Linked DNA regions of Homo sapiens: region 2 is linked to region 1. The links come from fine-mapping of genetic effects on gene expression. A gene starts in region 1. The other region holds a variant in brackets. All regions are shown on one strand. Distances are from middle to middle.

Region 1 (8,327 bases):
GTGTTTTCATCCTCTGCTAGGCCATGGGCAAGGTGGGCGCTGAATGTGCTTTTCCCAACACCGCCTTTCCCAGACAATACCAAGATTTTGTGTTTTACAGTCTTCATTTTCTCTTTGATTTCCTCTATAGCTGCAAAGAAAACCAAAGTTCAGGGGATGAGGTCCCACACCAAACCTCGAATGTCACGCTTCCAGTCAACTAGAAAGAGCTAAGTCCTAGTCCTAGTACTAGTCCTGGGGCTGTTTAAAACGATCCTCTGAAATACCTCTCAGACAATGGTAGAAATAAGTGCTAGGAAGAAAATAAGGCTATTATCACACTTGAAGGGGTCTCATTTATTGGTTTACACGTTTGTCTCCCCCAACTAGAACATAGTCTCCACAAAGGTAGGAACTGTCTGAAGCTTTCAGTGCTGTATTCCCAGCTCCAGAAGAGAACTTTGCAAACAGCAATGGTCACCAACTTGGGGACAAAATCCCCCAGAGACATTTGGTAATGTCTGGAGACACTGTTCTTTCTTTCTTTTTTTTTTGAGACAGAGTGTTGCTCTGTCGCCCAGGATGGAGTGCAGTGGCGTGATCTCGGCTCACTGCAACACTGCCTCCTGGGTTCAAGCGATTCTCCTGCCTTAGCCTCCCAAGTAGCTGGGATTACAGGTGCCTGCCACCATGCCTGGCTAATTTTTGTATTTTTAATAGAGACGGTGTTTCTCTATGTTGGCCAGGCTAGTCTCGAACTTCCAACCTCAAGTGATCCACCCACCTTGGCCTCCCAAAGTGTTGGAATTACAGGTGTGAGCCACCATGCTCAGCCTGGAGACACTTTTCATTGTCACAGGAGAGGTACTGCTGGCATTTAATGGGTACAGCCCAGATTGTGCTAAATGTCCTACAATGCACAGGACAGCCCCCCACAACAAAGAGTGATCCTGCCCCAAATGTCAGCAGTGCTGAGGTTGAGAAACTCTGATAGACAGCAGGCACATACTAAGTATCTGCCAATGAAACTATCTTATTTCAAATCCTTAAAACAATACACGAGGTATAAAGGAAATTAAAAAGTCTCATGACTGGCCAAACTCAAGTGAAAGTTAAGCCTGGAAACCTCCCAACACTGCTGTCCTCCTCCCCATCAACAGACAGCTGTTACTTCCCAACCTTGTGTCAAAGCATTCTACATTAACCAGACACCTGCAAAAGGCCAAAGGCCCCATGCAATCCATTGTGGGATGACTGCCCTCACAAGTTGCTCCTAAGGAACTCCTTTGCTGGCCCCTAAATCTTTGAAGATGAGTATCCTCCCATAAACAAGGACATGCCAACTGTAACTTTAGGACTGTAACCTCAGTCTAACTCCTTCCCTATTACTGATGTCTGTTAAACGCCACACTGACCATGTCCATTACAAGCTTATCCTCCCACATGCCAAACAAAGATGGGATGAGATAGTCCTTCCTCTCCTACCCTGAGACGTCTGCCTAATTAATTCTTCCTTTATTCCCTCTTTTGAATGTTTACTTTATTTTCTGAATAGTGTAGATATACTGGGCACGAATTAAAACCTCACAAGAATGTAACTACCTGCCACGAGGCCTACTGCACTTTTTCCTGCATGCTTTTTCCCCTTTTAATGAAATATATAAACACCAGCCTTCTGGAACCACTCCATCGAGCACAGGCCACAGATGTTTCTGTCACTTGTATTTTCCAGGGCACGCCCTCAAGCTCTGGCCCAATAAACCTCCACTGAGGCTCAGTTCAGTCTCTCCATTGCATTGACAGAGATAACTATTTTTCTCTTCATTTTTTTTTTTCTTTGAGACAGGGTCTCACTCTGTCACCCAGGCTGGAGTGCAGTGGCACGATCTCAGCTCACTGCAACCTCCACCTCCCGGGTTCAAGTGATCCTCCCACCTCAGCCTCGAGGGCGGGCATGCACCACCATGCTGGCTAATTTTTGTATTTTTAGTAGAGACAGGTTTCACCATGTTGGCCAGGCTGGTCTCGAACTCCTGACCTCAAGTGATCCATCCACCCGCCTCGGCCTCCCAAAGTGCTGGGATTACAGGCGTGAGCCACTGCACCCGGCCTGTCTCCATTTTTGATGAGGAACCAGAAGCTCAGAGAGGTTAGGACTATTGCTGAAGGTCACACCGCATGGATCCAAGAATCAAATCCAAGTCTCTCTCTGAACTCCTTCAAGATTCTCCCCCTTGGCCAGGTGCAGTGGCTCATGCCTGTAATCCCAGCACTTTGGGAGGCCCAGGCAGATGCATCACTTGAGGTCAGGAGTTCGAGACCAACCTGGTCAACATGGTGAAACTCTGGTTCTACTAAAAATATAAAAATTAGCCAGCCGTGGTGGCAGGCGCCTGTAGTCCCAGGTACTCGGGAGACTGAGGCACGAGAATCGCTTGAACCTGAGAGGTGAAAGTTGCAGTGAGCCGAGATCACACCACTGCACTCTGGTCTGGGCTACACAGCAAGACTCTGTCTAAAAAAAAAGGGGGAAAAAAAAGAAAAAAAAATATTGTCCTCCTGCCTCCTGCTTTTTAAGGTCCTTCTGAGCAGGCTCCCTGGGTCCTCTCATCCTGGAATCTGTGCTTCACAGCACTTAAAGCTGCGGTGGTTTAGTTGCTAGCTCACGTGTTTGTTTCCCCAGTAAAGCTAAACTCCACTAGAGCAGTGACCACGCCTGATCCCCAGCTGTGTCCCCAGGACAGCACCAAACCTACGAGGCGATCAACACATTTCTGCTGAATGAGTGGGAGAATCACTCCTCAAAAGGAAGAAAATTGTGTCAAGAAAGTAGCTGGCAGAGCCAGGATGTAAGTCCGAAGACTCCCCGACTTCGAAGCTTATCCCGTTTTTCTCTGCGGTCTGTTATTGTCACTCAAACCTCTGGCCCCGACCCTCTTAATTAATGTCCCTTTCGACTCCGCGCCGGTCAGTCTCCACCCTCCATCCGCGCCAGGTCCTTCGCGCTCGCCTTCTAAAGGCCTCGTTCCTGTCAGTCATTCCAAGCTCCGCCCTCACCCTGCCCACTTTCCACGCCCCGCCCCTTCTGGGCCCCACCCCTCTCCGAATACAATACCTTCTAGCCTGCCGCTGTCAGTCATTCTGCAGATCCCGCCCCCTCCCTCCCACGCCCCGCCTTTTCCGGGCCTGCGCCTCTAAGTTCCTGTTGAGGCCTTGCCCTTTTCTCACCCGTGTCCGGAGTGGCCCCCGCTCCAGAAGCGCACAGCCGCTGGTTGGGGCATCCCTGACATGAAGCCCCTCTGCCCGCCTGGGCGCTGTCGGCCCCTGGACAGTCTGCGCAGAGACAAGACCACAGTTAGAGCAGCTCCCGACACTTTCGCCCCGCGACCCACGCCCCCTCCGCGAGCTTACCGTGAGGCACCTCCTCCATTCCGTCGCCTTTGCCGCCTTCGTGGTCACCGGAACCCGCTGTCGTACATTTCCGCCTTGTGGGCACAATCTGATTCTCCGACCGCGCGAAATAAGTCTCGGAAAGGGGGCTGTGCGCACGCGCGAACCTTGGGCCGAAAGACTGGGACTCAACGTCTGTTCCTTTTCAGAGATTTCCTATCATAAATACTTCTGCAGTGCATCTCCTAAGAACAAAGCCATTCTTCATGACATCAGTGCCATTTTCATACCCAAGAGATTTAATATCGATGCAGTACTAGCCAATGCAGTATTAGCCAATAGACAGTTTATATTTCAATTTCAGTTGTTAGACCCCCTCCCCTGCTGGATTCACTCACTGCCTGGAGTTATTTCTCTTCGGTCTCCTTTAATTCAGATCAGTCCTTCTTTTTTTAGGGGGGGTCTCATCACCTTGATAATTTTGACGGGTCCAGACCAGTTGTGTAATAGAATATCCCATATTCTTGATTTGTCTAATCCTCCCCTCCCTCTTGCCTTGTAATTAGATAAAGGTTAATTTTTCTTTTTTCCTGCAGAACACACTTGGATAATGTCAGTTTGTCCCGTTTTTGGTAATGTGAAGCTTGATCGCTTGCTAAAGGTGGTGTCTGCCCCATTTCTCCATTTAATGTTTCCTTCTTCCATTTGTAATTAACAGGTACTCTCTGGGACCATCTTCTTCTCTATCAGCCTTTCACTCAGTGATTTTAGCAGCATTTATATATATATATATAAAACTATAGATTATATATATGATAAATATATATCAGTTTTATACCCTCTCTTTTTTTCTTTTTTTTCGAAGACTCACTATGGATTCCTGGATTTTTTAAAATTGTCTTTTATAATCAATTATTATTCTTTCTGGTCGATTTTTTTTCCCCCAGATGTGGCCAGTGAAGCCCCTTCAAGACAGTTCTTATGTTCTTTGGGCACTAATCCAGCTTCTTTGAGCATTTTCTTGCTTTCTGATACAAGATGTTTCAGTCATCCCTTCTCCCTGCTGCAGTCATTTCTTCAGGGAGCCTTGGTTACTTTTTAGCAGACAACAGTTCAGAAACCAAGATGTGGATGCCACAAATGCTCATTGCTACTGGAGTGTCATTGCTCACAGGTTTGGCACCTGGAATATTAATGAGTGAACAAACTTTACCTAGCCCCAGACACTAAGAATATGGAAACGTTTATTTATTTATTTATTTTTGAGGCGGATTCTCGCTCTGTCACCCAGGCTGGAGTGCAGTGGTGGGATCTCGGCTCACTGCAAGCTCCGCCTTCTGGGTTCACGTCATTCTCCTGCCTCAGCCACCCGAGTAGCTGAGACTACAGGCCACCACGCCCGGCTAATTTTTTGTATTTTTAGTAGAGACAGGGTTTCACCATGTTAGCCAGAATGGTCTCGATCTCCTGACCTCGTGATCTGCCCGCCTTGGCCTCCCAAAGTGTTGGGATTACAGGCATGAGCCACCGCACCCGGCCTCGGAAACATTTATTAAACAGCAGTGTATCAGCTGCCTGTCACTACCACTAATTATAGCCAGCATTTTGTAGAATACTTACCGTTTGGCAGCTGTCATCTTTGTGCTTTCATGTGAATTACCTAATTTATGTCCTTTCATAGTCCTACTGTCTCCATTTTTGGATAAGGAAACTGAGGCTTAAAGTAAACTACTTTCCCGAGGTCGCATGACTGGTAGCAGGGGAACCAGGGTGATAAACTTGGTCTGTCTGGCTGCAGAGCCTGCACTTAGTAACACATGGTCCCAGCCAGCACTGGGCTAGATGCCAATGATTCCAGACTAACCTGGACCCTGCCATCTGGAGCACAGTCTGGTCGGGAGAAGAGGACCAGAGTGATGGGGCATCAGCAAAGGCCTGGAGAGCAGAGAGGAAGTCACCTATCAGGTAGGGACTGTTGTCATTTCCGTTTTACAGGTGATAAGATGGCTGCAAAGATTTACTTGTCCACAGTCTGAGAGGCAGAAAGAGCAGAACTGGGTTTTTAACCAAGTCTGATACAGGGCCTTTGCTATTAATCACTATACTGTATATTAGAGGGCAGGATGCAAGTTATTCTCCTTTTTATTTTTATTTTTGTGGGATGGAATCTCACTCTGTTGCTCATGCTGGAGTGCAGTGGTGTGATCTTGGCTTACTGCAACCTCCACCTCCCGGGTTCAAGCAATTCTCCTGTGTCAGCCTCCTGAGTAGCTGGGACTACAGGTGCCCACCACCACGCCTGGCTAATTTTTTGTATTTTTGGTAGAGACGGGGTTTTACCATGTAGGCCTGGCTGGTCTCGAACTCCTGACCTCAGGTGATCCACCCGCCTCAGCCTACCAAAGTGCTAGGATTACAGGTGTGAGCCACCGCGCCTGGCCAGGGCCGCTTCTTAAGGTGAGTGCTCCCCAAGACTCTGTTCTTGGGCCACTTCCAGTCCCACTTCCCACTTCCTCCTGGGCAAGCAACTGACAGCCCTGATGCTATCCATCTTCTGTCTCCAGCTCCCACACCTCTTGCTCCGTGAGTTCGGATCTGTGGATCCTACCTTGTGCCTATTGGATTTTATTGCATGGACATCCCACAAGCGTAACAAATAAACGTCTACAACTTCTTCTCAAGGCGGTTCCTGCCTCTGGATTTGTTATACCTGGACAGGGCATGACCCCTGGGCTAAGAACTCAAGCCGTAAATCTGAGTATCAGCCTTGTTTAGTTTTCTCCATCTCCATCAGTGATCAAGTGCTGTGTGACAAGTCACCCCAATATGTAGTGGTTTAAACCCACCATGGTTTATTGCTTCCTGTGACTCTTCTGGTTTCACCTGGGCTCCCTTAATGTGGCTTCATTCAGCTGGGAGTTGGCTGGAAGGTCTCAAATGGCTTCACTCTCACACTGGCCTTGATTCCCCCCTCGTGGCCTCCCTCTCTCATTTTTCAGTGGTCTAGCCTGTGTCCCTTTAAATGGCAGCTGGGAATGACAAAGCTGGGAAGTGGCAGTCACTTTCACCATGTTCTCTCGGTCAAAGTGTCACAGACACAGACTCCTCTTGTTGATTAGTGGGGTGGCGTACCTATACAGGGATGGGGGTCAGTGTTGTCCATAGAGACGCCCACAGCACCCCCTGCATCCAATCAGACATCAGGTCAGCAGCTGCACCCCTAGGTGGTAGGCTGGTAGCACACATGACCCCACTTCTCTCCCTGTCTGGATCTGTGCCCTTGGCTGCTGAACTTTGCAGTGCCCTCCCACGTGCGGGGAGGGGGTTCCATCCTACCCCTTGACTCTGTGCTCAGGCATGTGACTTACTTTAGCAAATGTGATTCAAGAAAAAGCTTGTAATGGGGCTTTTGCCTGTTTTAATCCCTCTCCAGCTCCCCTGCCACTTAAAGGTACACAGGCTAGGAGAAGGTCTGGGCTCGCCCATGGGAGGTGAAACACCTGGAACTGAGCTGAGCCACCCCTGTGCTCTCAGTGAAGGCCTCCTAAACCAGCGGCCCAAGACACATGAGAAGAGTCCAGCCAAGAGCTGCAGATCCACCCACCCAGACCCACAGATCCACCCATCCAGACCCACAGATCCACCCACCCAGACCCACAGATCCACCCATCCAGACCCACTGATCCACCCATCCAGACCCACAGATCCACCCATCCAGACCCACCGATCCACACATCCAGACACACAGATCCACCCATCCAGACCCACCGATCCACACATCCAGACCCACAGATCCACCCATCCAGACCCACAACTGGCCATAGATGCGTGAGTCCTGAAGAACCACCTGGCCAATGCACAGGCTGGTGAACTAGCTAAATGCTGGTGGTTTGACACTGTTGAGTTTGGGGTAGCTATAGACAACTGACACTCCATGCCTTCCAGCATCCCTCCTGCCTCAGCTCAGGCCCCCTCCTCCTCCTGGTCCTGCAACAGTGTCTGTTTCAGCCAGGATAGGCTAGTCTGCGCTGCCAAAACAGACATCCCCAAACTGAAGTGGCTCAAGGCAATCAAGTTTATTTTGGCATTTGCTCCATATGTAACTTCATGGACAGAGGTTCCTGCTCCCTGTGGTTCCTCAGGGACACAGACTGAAGCTCCACCGTCTCCTGTGGCCCCTTTTGAACACAGAGGACACAAGCCAGGGGAATTGTACCCTGATTCTGAAATGCTTCCACTAGAAATGACACCTATCTGCCCACTTTTCATTGGCTACAATTAGTCACACACGTCAGGTGCAGTGGCTCACACCTGTAATCCCAGCATTTTAGGAGGCCAAGGCAGGAGGATTGCTTGAGGCCAGGAGTTGGAGAACAGCATAGTGAGACCCTGTCTCTACAAAAAATTTAAAAATTAACTGGGCAAGGTGGTGCATGCCTGTAGTCCCAGCTACTTGGGAGGCCGAGGCAGGACGATTGCTGGAGTTGGAGGCTGCAATGAGCTGTTATCACAGTACTGCCCTCCAGCCTGGGCAGCAGAGTGACACCTTGTCTAAAAAAAAAAAAAAAAAAAAAAAAAAGGCCAGGCGCGATGGCTCACGCCTGTAATCCCAGCACTTTGGGAGGCCGAGGCGGGTGGATCACCAGGTCAGGTGTTCAAGACCAGTCTGGCCAACATAGCGAAACCCTGTCTCTACTAAAAATACACAAAAAATTAGCTGGGTGTGGTGGTGTGCGCCTATAATCCCAGCTACTCAGGAGGCTGAGGCAGGAGAATTGCATGAACCCGGGAGGCAGAGGTTGCAGTGAGCCAAGATTGTGCCACTGCACTCCAGCCTGAGTGACAGAATGAGACTCTGTCTCAGAAAAAAAAAAAAAAGGTTGGGCGTGATGACTCATGCCTGTAACCCAGCACTTTGGGAGGCCGAGGCGGTTGGATCACTAGAGGTCAGGAGTTCA
Region 2 (8,327 bases), 25 kb before region 1:
TCACCTGAGGTCAGGAGTTTGAGACCAGCCTGGCCAACATGGCAAAACCCTGTCTGTACTATAGATACCAAAATTAGCTGGGCGTAGTGGCACACGCCTGTAATCTCAGCTACTTGGGAGGCTGAGGCAGGAGAATCGCTTGAACCCAGGAGGCGGAGGTTGCAGTGAGCCAAGATCGTGCCACAGCACTTCAGCCTGGGTGACAGAGTGAGGCTCCGTCTTAAAAAAAATCAATAAATAGAGAAAACAAAATATTTGTAGATAGTAAAACAACAGTGTCATTTAATGAAAGTGCGGGCCCTGGAATTTGGATCCCGGCTCGACCACGCTCCAGCTCTGTGACCTTGGGCAGCTTTCGTCTTCCTGAGCCTCAGTTTCCTCTTTGTAAAATGGGATGATGATGGTGGCAACCTCTCCAGTTGTAATGATTCTGAGGTGTCCGTGGGTATTTGCAAATGCTCAGTAAATGTTGGCTGTTACTATTCTTAGGTGCAGGCTAGAGCATTTCTACGTGGCTTGAGAGGTGCATTTCTGTAAATGCTCTTAGAAAGTGACCTTTGCGTCAGATGGAGACCATCCTGGCTAACATGGTGAAACAGTGTCTCTACTAAAAATACAAAAAAATTAGCCAGGCCTGGTGGCGGACGCCTGTAGTCCCAGCTACTCGGGAGGCTGAGGCAGGAGAATGGTGTGAACCCGGGAGGCGGAACTTGCAGTGAGCTGAGATCGTGCCTCTGCACCCCAGCCTGGGCGACAGAGCGAAACTCTGTCTCAAAAAAAAGTGACCTTTGCTTTCTTTGTCTGAGTGCAGGCTCTGGTGGTTGCTGGGATCTCTCTCCAAGCTGCAAACCTGTATGGCTACATCCTTTGTAAGATGGGAGGCAACAGTGACATTGGCAAGGTCACAGCCAGTTTCCTGTCCCAGACAGTGTTCCAGACGGTGAGTAACTGAGGTCTGACTCTTGGACCACTCCTCTCCAGGTAGTCAAAGTCAAGGTGGCCTGCTGGCAACTGCGGTTTGTAATGTAACATATCCGCCAGGCTGCCAATGTTTTATTGTTTATATATTTTTTGGGAGACAGGATCTCGCTCTGTCACCCAGGCTAGAGTGCAATGGTGTGATCGCGGCCTATTGCAACCTCCATCTCTTGGGCTCAAGCGATCCTCCCACCTCAGCCTCTGGCACAGTTGGGACTACAGGTGTGTACCACCATGCCTGGCCTTTTTTTTTTGTAGAGACGAAGTTTTGCCATGTTGCCCAGGCTGCTCTAGAACTCCTGAGCTCAAGCAGCCCGCCTGCCTTGGCCTCCCAAAGTGCTGGGATTACAGCCATGAGTGAGCCACTGTGCCTGGCAGTTTTGTTTTTTAATTGTAAGATTTACATAAAATGTACCATTGTAACCATTTTAAAATGTATAGTTCTGTGGCATTAAGTATAACCACTTTATTGTGCAACCTTCACCCCACCCAGCTCCAGAACTGCTTTCATCTTGCAAAACTTAAGCTCAGTACCCACAAAACACTAACTCCCCCTCCTCCTCGCCTCCTAGCCCTAGCAACCAGCATTCTGCTTTCTGTATCTATTGGTTTGACAGCCCTAGGGACCTCCTATAAGTGCAATTATAGTTTTTGTCCTTTTGTGACTGCCATTGTTAGTTTTCAGTGATTTTTAAAAGTATAGAATTAAGGAAAGAGTCACAAACGGTTTTTCAATTTTTTTTTTTTTTTTTTTTTTTTTTTTGAGATGGGAGTCTCACTCTGCTCCCAGGCTGGAGTGCAATGGCATGTGTTGGCTCACTGCAACCTCCGGCTCCGGGTTCAAGTGATTCTCCTGCCTCAGCCTCCCAAGTAGCTGGGATTACAGGTGCATAACACCATGCCTGGCTAATTTTTGTATTTATAGTAGACGGGGTCTCTCCATGTTGACCAGGCTGGTCTCGAACTCCTTGCCTCAAGTGATCTACCAGCCTTGGCCTCCCAAAGTGCTAGGATTACAGGCGGGAGCTACCGTGCCCAGCTTGTTTTTGTTTTGTTTTTTTTTTTTAACTTAATAGATATTTCTAAAAGTGAGAGACAGAAGTCTTTGAAATTTGACCAGGTTCATCCTGAAATGGGTAGAACCGTCCTAAATTTGAACAGCACTGCTTTATGCCAAGACATCAAGCAACCAATTCCGCAGGTTTTCTGTACTTTGTGGGTTTTCTCTGGCCTTCCATCAGCAGGATCGCCCCACTCGCGTGTAAGGACAGAAAACCATGGTTGACTTTTCCCCTTGCAGGCCTGCCCAGGTGACTTTCAGAAGCCTGGCCTCGAGGGGCTGGAGATTCACCAGCATTAGGTGAGAAATGGATCATGGCACCCGTGTGGAGGAACTGGGGAATTCTGAAAAATGCAGCTCTTGGGGCACAGGGGCCCGGGGTCTGGGTGGGCTTCCCCTGTTCCCTGGGGTGGCCAGGCATGTGACCAGGCAGGAAGCAGACTGGGCAATGGGCCTGCCCTGGGCTTTGCAGCCTCATTGCTCTTGGCGTGAGGAGCTGGGGGTCGGGGGGCGAGGTCACACCTTCCTCACACTGAACATGTGCAAATCTGATCATATGTATGGTCCTAGGGAAGGGCGGGGAGGGAAGAGACAAGGGAGGGAAAGAACAAGGGGATTTGTTCTTGTTTCCCACCCACCCACTTTTATGCCCCAGAGTGGAGGGAAAACAGGAATTTACTCTTCTCCCACGTGGTCTCAGATCCTGTGTGTCTCAAACAGAGCAAGCACCTCATGGCAAAGAGGATGATCGTAGAGTTTACATCTGTCCCTCTTTTTTATATAATTAAAAAACCTGAAAGTTGGTTTGCATGACACTGGACATTACTGGATATACTGTGCACATATTACTACACAGGGAATTTACACAGACCCCACATTCTGTCTTACTGGGTGATTCAAGGACTCTTCAAGGGCTTTTTGATTTGACCCAGCTGTGTCATATGCAGTGATTTTAGAACGAAGCCCAGCCTGAGCTCTGTTGCTTTTAGATTTTTCCTCAATCTGAAGAAAAGCGTTTGGACTGTGGTGTTTGAAAACAAGCCTGTGTGTTCTGCAGTGAAGCCGCACACTCACCCCTTTGGTTCTTTTCTAGGCTTTCTTATCTTCACAGGCAGAAATGGCTTAAACGGGAGTTTCTACAATCGACTAAGCTTCCGACACAGCAGAATCCCACGATCCCACAACCCATTTGTTTTTTACGTGAAACAGGCCTCGGGGGAGAGATTTGAGGGGGTTTTATTCTTAAAACGGCACATTTGTAGAGAATGCCCTTTATATATGTTCTAAAGAAAAGTGTACAAATACTCAATGATTAAAGTGTCTCTGAGAAAGTGGCTTCGGACCACACCAGCATCTGGTCCTTTTGCTGTGACCCACCCCATCCCGGAGCTGGTCGGGTCTGGCTGGATGTGCTGCCCAGTGAGTGCCTCGCTCGGTAACTGCTTGGTCCTGAACATTCTCTCG[T/C]TTCAGGAACTGATGAGGTTCTCTTCTTTTGACTGATGGAGATTACAAAACTCTTGGATTCCTGGAAAACAAGACGACAGGCATAGAGTGCTAATGGCTTGTCTACCCCTTGACAGCCCTGTCCTGTGCTGGGGAGGGCTGTGTTTTGACAGGGGTGGAATCCTCTGGCTAGTTCCATAAAAAGACCTGTGTCTGTGATGCCCTGAGTCTTTGAAAGTGACCGGAATACCTCACACTACCCATCTTGCTCATAACCAGTGGCTGCGGCCTTCCTCGGACCATCTATAGATGGAGGATTCTGGGAATGCTGTTTCCTTACCCTTGACATCATTCTTCTAGGCAAGTAAAACCCAGCCACAAACTCAGAGACCACAGCTTTAACAAACACTGACACCTCTGCCCTAACTCTGGGGCCTCTGATGGCTGCCACTGGCTGAATGTGGCCTGCACGTGGGTTTGGTCTGGCTCAACAAAGTTTTTATTTTTATTTTTTATTTTTTTGAGACACGGTCTCACGCTGTTGCCCAGGCTGGAGTGCAGTGGCGCGATCTCGCCTTACTGCAGCCTCCGCCTCCCAGGTTCAAGCGATTCTCCTGCCTCAGCCTCCTGAGTAGCTGGGACTACAGGCATGCGCCACCACACCCGGCTAATTTTCATATTTTTAGTAGAGACAGTGTTTCTCCATGTTAGCCAGGCTGGTCTTGAACTCCTGACCAGCCTCAAGTGATCTGCCTGCCTCCTTCACCCAAAGTGCTGGGATTCCAGGTGTGAGCCACTGCACCTGGCCTTTTTTTTTTTTATCAGTTACTTTTAAAAATGAATTACTTTATCCCTTTATTGGGATGTATTTCCTAAGCCATAAATTTCACCCTCACCATGTTTTTTAAACTATGAATTAATTCACAATACTCACACATTGAGAGATTTCTCATGGACTCCTGGCTTCCTCGGCTATGGGGGCCACTCTGTGGTCATCACAGACCCCACCACCCACCTGTCCTTCCACACCCCTGGCTCCTTTATGTTGCTTCCTGCCCCACAGGCATCTGCATTTAGTACTCATGGAAATACTTACTCTGAATTATACTTCTGTAGGCTAACGTGGCTGGGGAATCTGGGGCGTCAATGAAAAAAGACTGGCCTTTGTCACAATTCTTACCTTAAAAAAGAAACAAACGGAAGACAATTCAGTCCAAGAGGAAAACAGAATGGCCACAAGATCTTGGGGCTCTTTCCGTGCTGGTGACAATGGGAAGATCTTGAGCCCGCTTCACTCGTAATGAAGAACAAAGTAGAAAAGACCAGTGGGGTCTCAGGGACCTTCCTTCCAGCAGGGTCCCCAGCCAGCATTTCAGCGTGGCTAAATAATCAGGTGGTGTACAGAAAATGCAGGTTCCAGGGCCCTACAGAGAACTGATTCAGCAGCTTCCACATGGGCCCAGGAGTCTGCATTTTAAGAGATTAGCTTTTGAGTGAAAGGATCATGAATGCACATGGTTAAAAAAAGTACAGAATGCAAAAGGATATGGCATAAAAGGCCAAGTCCGAAAAGGGCTACTAGTGTTCTAGGTGTCTTTCCAGAAAGATTATGCGCATATAAATGTGCACACTTGCATGTGTGCGCACACACATACACACACTCTCATATACCTAAAATACGAATGGGAGCACATGACACACACATTCTGCCTGCTGCTTTGTCTGTGTATAATTTTATCTTCCAGGTCATCTGTGCTGGTGTCTATCAGTCTGCTAGTCTTTCCCCGCCATGTGGCCATTGTTCCAGTCCCCTCCTATGCACACCCAGGTTTCTCTAGGACCATGTTATCCCAGAGCCAGGTGGACAGGACACAAGGGGCTAGGGGTCAATGGGGGTGTTCTCGCCTCCAGTCTGCCCTGCCAGCCCCCAGTCGTGGGTGGACCTGCCATCAGCTTGCTCTGCCCACTCCCCAGGCCTGAGCTGCTGGCGAAACAGGCAAGTGACTGCACTGCCCATGGCCGGTCACCAGCCTCAGGTGAACCCCAGGAGGGGTTCCTACCTAGCACTCATCATTTCCTCAACTTCACTACTGTGTCGCCCTGTGGGACAGGGAAGTCCAAGTCGGGGAAGAAGCCTGTGGGGAGGGGTTGGTGGGAGATGGGGAGCCCATATGGCCCAGTGAGTCAGGAAAATAGGGTCCAGAGGCAGGGAACATAAGGCCAATTCGCACTTGAGCCATAACAGGAAATGTCCTCTCCATAGGACGTATGCCGTAAATGACTTTGTAACTTTACTTCATCCTTTTCGTTTATATAGGGCGTACCTCAAGTAGAGGGTATTTAAACACAAAAACTCTGTAATGGGGCCTTTGAGCCCCTATTCTCAGGCCCGTTCTCCTCCCACACCGTGGAGTTGACTTTCATTTTCAATAAATCCCTTCCTTCCTTCCTTTCTTTGTGCGTTTTGTCCAATTTTTTGTTCCAGACACCAAGAACCTGGACATCCTCCGCCGTTAACGCTGGGCCCATGAGACCATGTGGAACTCGCTAGGGAGGCCCCTGAGTGCACGTTCGCTGGGCCAGACCTGGGAGGTTGGGGATCCCAGAATAGTCATGCTGGGGCTACTTTCTGTCCCTGACTTTCACCCAGGTCTCCCTTCCCCAGAGGGCTCCCCAGCCCCCAACACACATATATGCTCTAGTGTTTTCCCTTCCTAACTGCATTTCCCCCTGGGCTCCCACCTCTCCAAGAACGGGCAGCATTATCAGAACAGCTGGTGTGAGCACAGCCCTGTTCCAAGAGATCCCAGGCATCCTCTCACCCCACCCTGGCAGATCCCTCTCACTAGGCACCACTGTCACCTGCATTTTACACACGGGGCCATCGAGGCTGAGAGCGGAAATGACTAGCCCAAGTCCCACAGCTAGTGGTGGCGGAGCAGGGCTCTGAGGCCAGCCCTTCCTGTGATCCTCAGCACACCGGGACCAGGACCCATAGCACCAGAGCGCTGGCATCTGTAACTCTTTGCCACCATGTCCCCAGAGGAGACTGAAGTGCTGTCCTCATGCCTTCCTGTCTGTTCCTAGGAAGGTGGGTTTTCCCCCACTCTGTCCCCAGTGACCTTGCCAGATGCGTGTCTGTCACTTGGCCCTCATGCTCCACCCTCTTGGGTGGGTGACAGTGTTAACCACCCCTTCCTTTCTGGCACTCCCTGGCCTTGCTATCTGTGGCTTCCCCTCAAGGTGAGCTTCTGCAATGTGCCATTTGACACACAGGACCATGCCCACTAGAAGGCACTTAATGTTCTCAGCTCAGAATGAGCCTCGCAGCTGTCACTGGTGGCTCCTCTGCTTTGAAATTAGCTCTTGTGAACCACCTGGAACTTTGTTTCTTTGTGAAAAGTGGCCCTGAAAGGAAAGACCAGGGCCAATGCCAGGGCTTGGTGTGAGGGAGGTGGGAAGATGGAGGTTGCTGGCTCTTTGGAAGAAAAGCCGTATCAGGATCTAATAGCCCCAAGGTCACTTCCTGATCTGTCAGACAATGGCAAGGGCAGGCCTGTGGCTGGGCCCGTGGACATATTTGGGTGGGTCAGCAAGCATGCCATTTTTAAATTTTTTTTTGAGACAGGTTCTTGCTCTGTCGCCCAGGCTGGAGTGCAGTGGTGTGATCATGGCTCACTGCAACCTCAACCTCCCTGGGCTCAAGTGATCCTGCTAACTCAGCCTCCTGAGTAGCTGGGACCACAGGCACATGCCACCACACTGGGTGAATTTTTTCCTTTTTTTTTTTTTTTTTTTTTTAAGAGATGAGGTATCTTCCTGTGTTACCCAGGCTAGAGCATGGTTGTGTGTGTGTGTGTGTGTGTATTTAATGGAGTTAGTTGCTATCATTTAGTATCAGGAGACTTTGGGTAAGGATATAGATTTCTAGCTCTTCATTAAACCTTGGAAAATGTGGCAATTGTGATGGCCATAAGGACACACCTCTTGGATCTCTGGCAGCAGCTGCCATGCTCCAAAATCCACCACCACGTTTGTGTTGAGGCAATGCCACTCCCAGGCTGCTCCTAGCTAGTGACTGAGACGAGCATGGCACTCGGGCAGGCACGCTTCTGGGAGATGCAGCCCCTCTGATGGGTAAGTGGGCTCAGGAATGCCCTGGTGGCTGTGCCCAGCTTTCCTCGACAGCAGCCAAGACACTCCAGCAGACAGATGCTCCAACAGACTGACATACTCCAGCAGACTGAGATGCTCCAACAGACTGACATACTCCAGCAGACAGATGCTCCAACAGACTGACATACTCCAGCAGACTGAGATGCTCCAACAGACTGACATACTCCAGCAGACTGAGATGCTCCAACAGACTGACATACTCCAGCAGACTGAGATGCTCCAACAGACTGACATACTCCAGCAGACTGAGATGCTCCAATAGACCTACTCCAGCAGACTGAGATGCTCCAATAGACTGACATACTCCAGCAGACTGAGATGCTCCAATAGACTGACATACTCCAGCAGACTGAGATGCTCCAATAGACTGACATACTCCAGCAGACTGAGATGCTCCAATAGACAAATACTCCAGCAGAATGAGATGCTCCAATAGACAAATACTCCAGCAGACTGAGATGCTCCAATAGACTGACATACTCCAGCAGACTGAGATGCTCCAACACACTGGCATACTCCAGCAGACTGAGATTCTCCAATAGACAAATACTCCAGCAGACTGAGATGCTCCAACAGACTGGCATACTCCAGCAGACTGAGATGCTCCAATAGACTGCCACACTCCAGCAGACTGAGATGCTCCAATAGACAAATACTCCAGCAGACTGAG

The links.
Region 2: its variant is fine-mapped to the expression of NUBP1 in whole blood (TOPMed, PIP 0.97).

The regions. Positions count from the first base shown.
Region 1 is chr16:10,738,946-10,747,272 of GRCh38, reverse strand. NUBP1 (NUBP iron-sulfur cluster assembly factor 1, cytosolic) reads right to left here and starts at 3,431. Exons shown (of 11, transcript NM_002484.4): 1 at 3,391-3,431; 2 at 3,208-3,312; 3 at 1-130. The coding sequence starts at 3,409. RefSeq lists an enhancer at 3,573-3,622.
Region 2 is chr16:10,764,283-10,772,609 of GRCh38, reverse strand. It overlaps NUBP1 (NUBP iron-sulfur cluster assembly factor 1, cytosolic), which reads right to left. Exons shown (of 11, transcript NM_002484.4): 10 at 4,578-4,661; 11 at 3,259-3,563. The coding sequence ends at 3,505. TVP23A (trans-golgi network vesicle protein 23 homolog A) reads left to right here. Exons shown (of 8, transcript NM_001079512.4): 6 at 812-940; 7 at 2,279-2,338; 8 at 3,509-5,935. The coding sequence ends at 2,338. Among named protein-coding and RNA genes, the nearest start is that of NUBP1, 25 kb to the right of the region's middle. The variant T/C (reference allele first, on the strand shown) is at 3,503.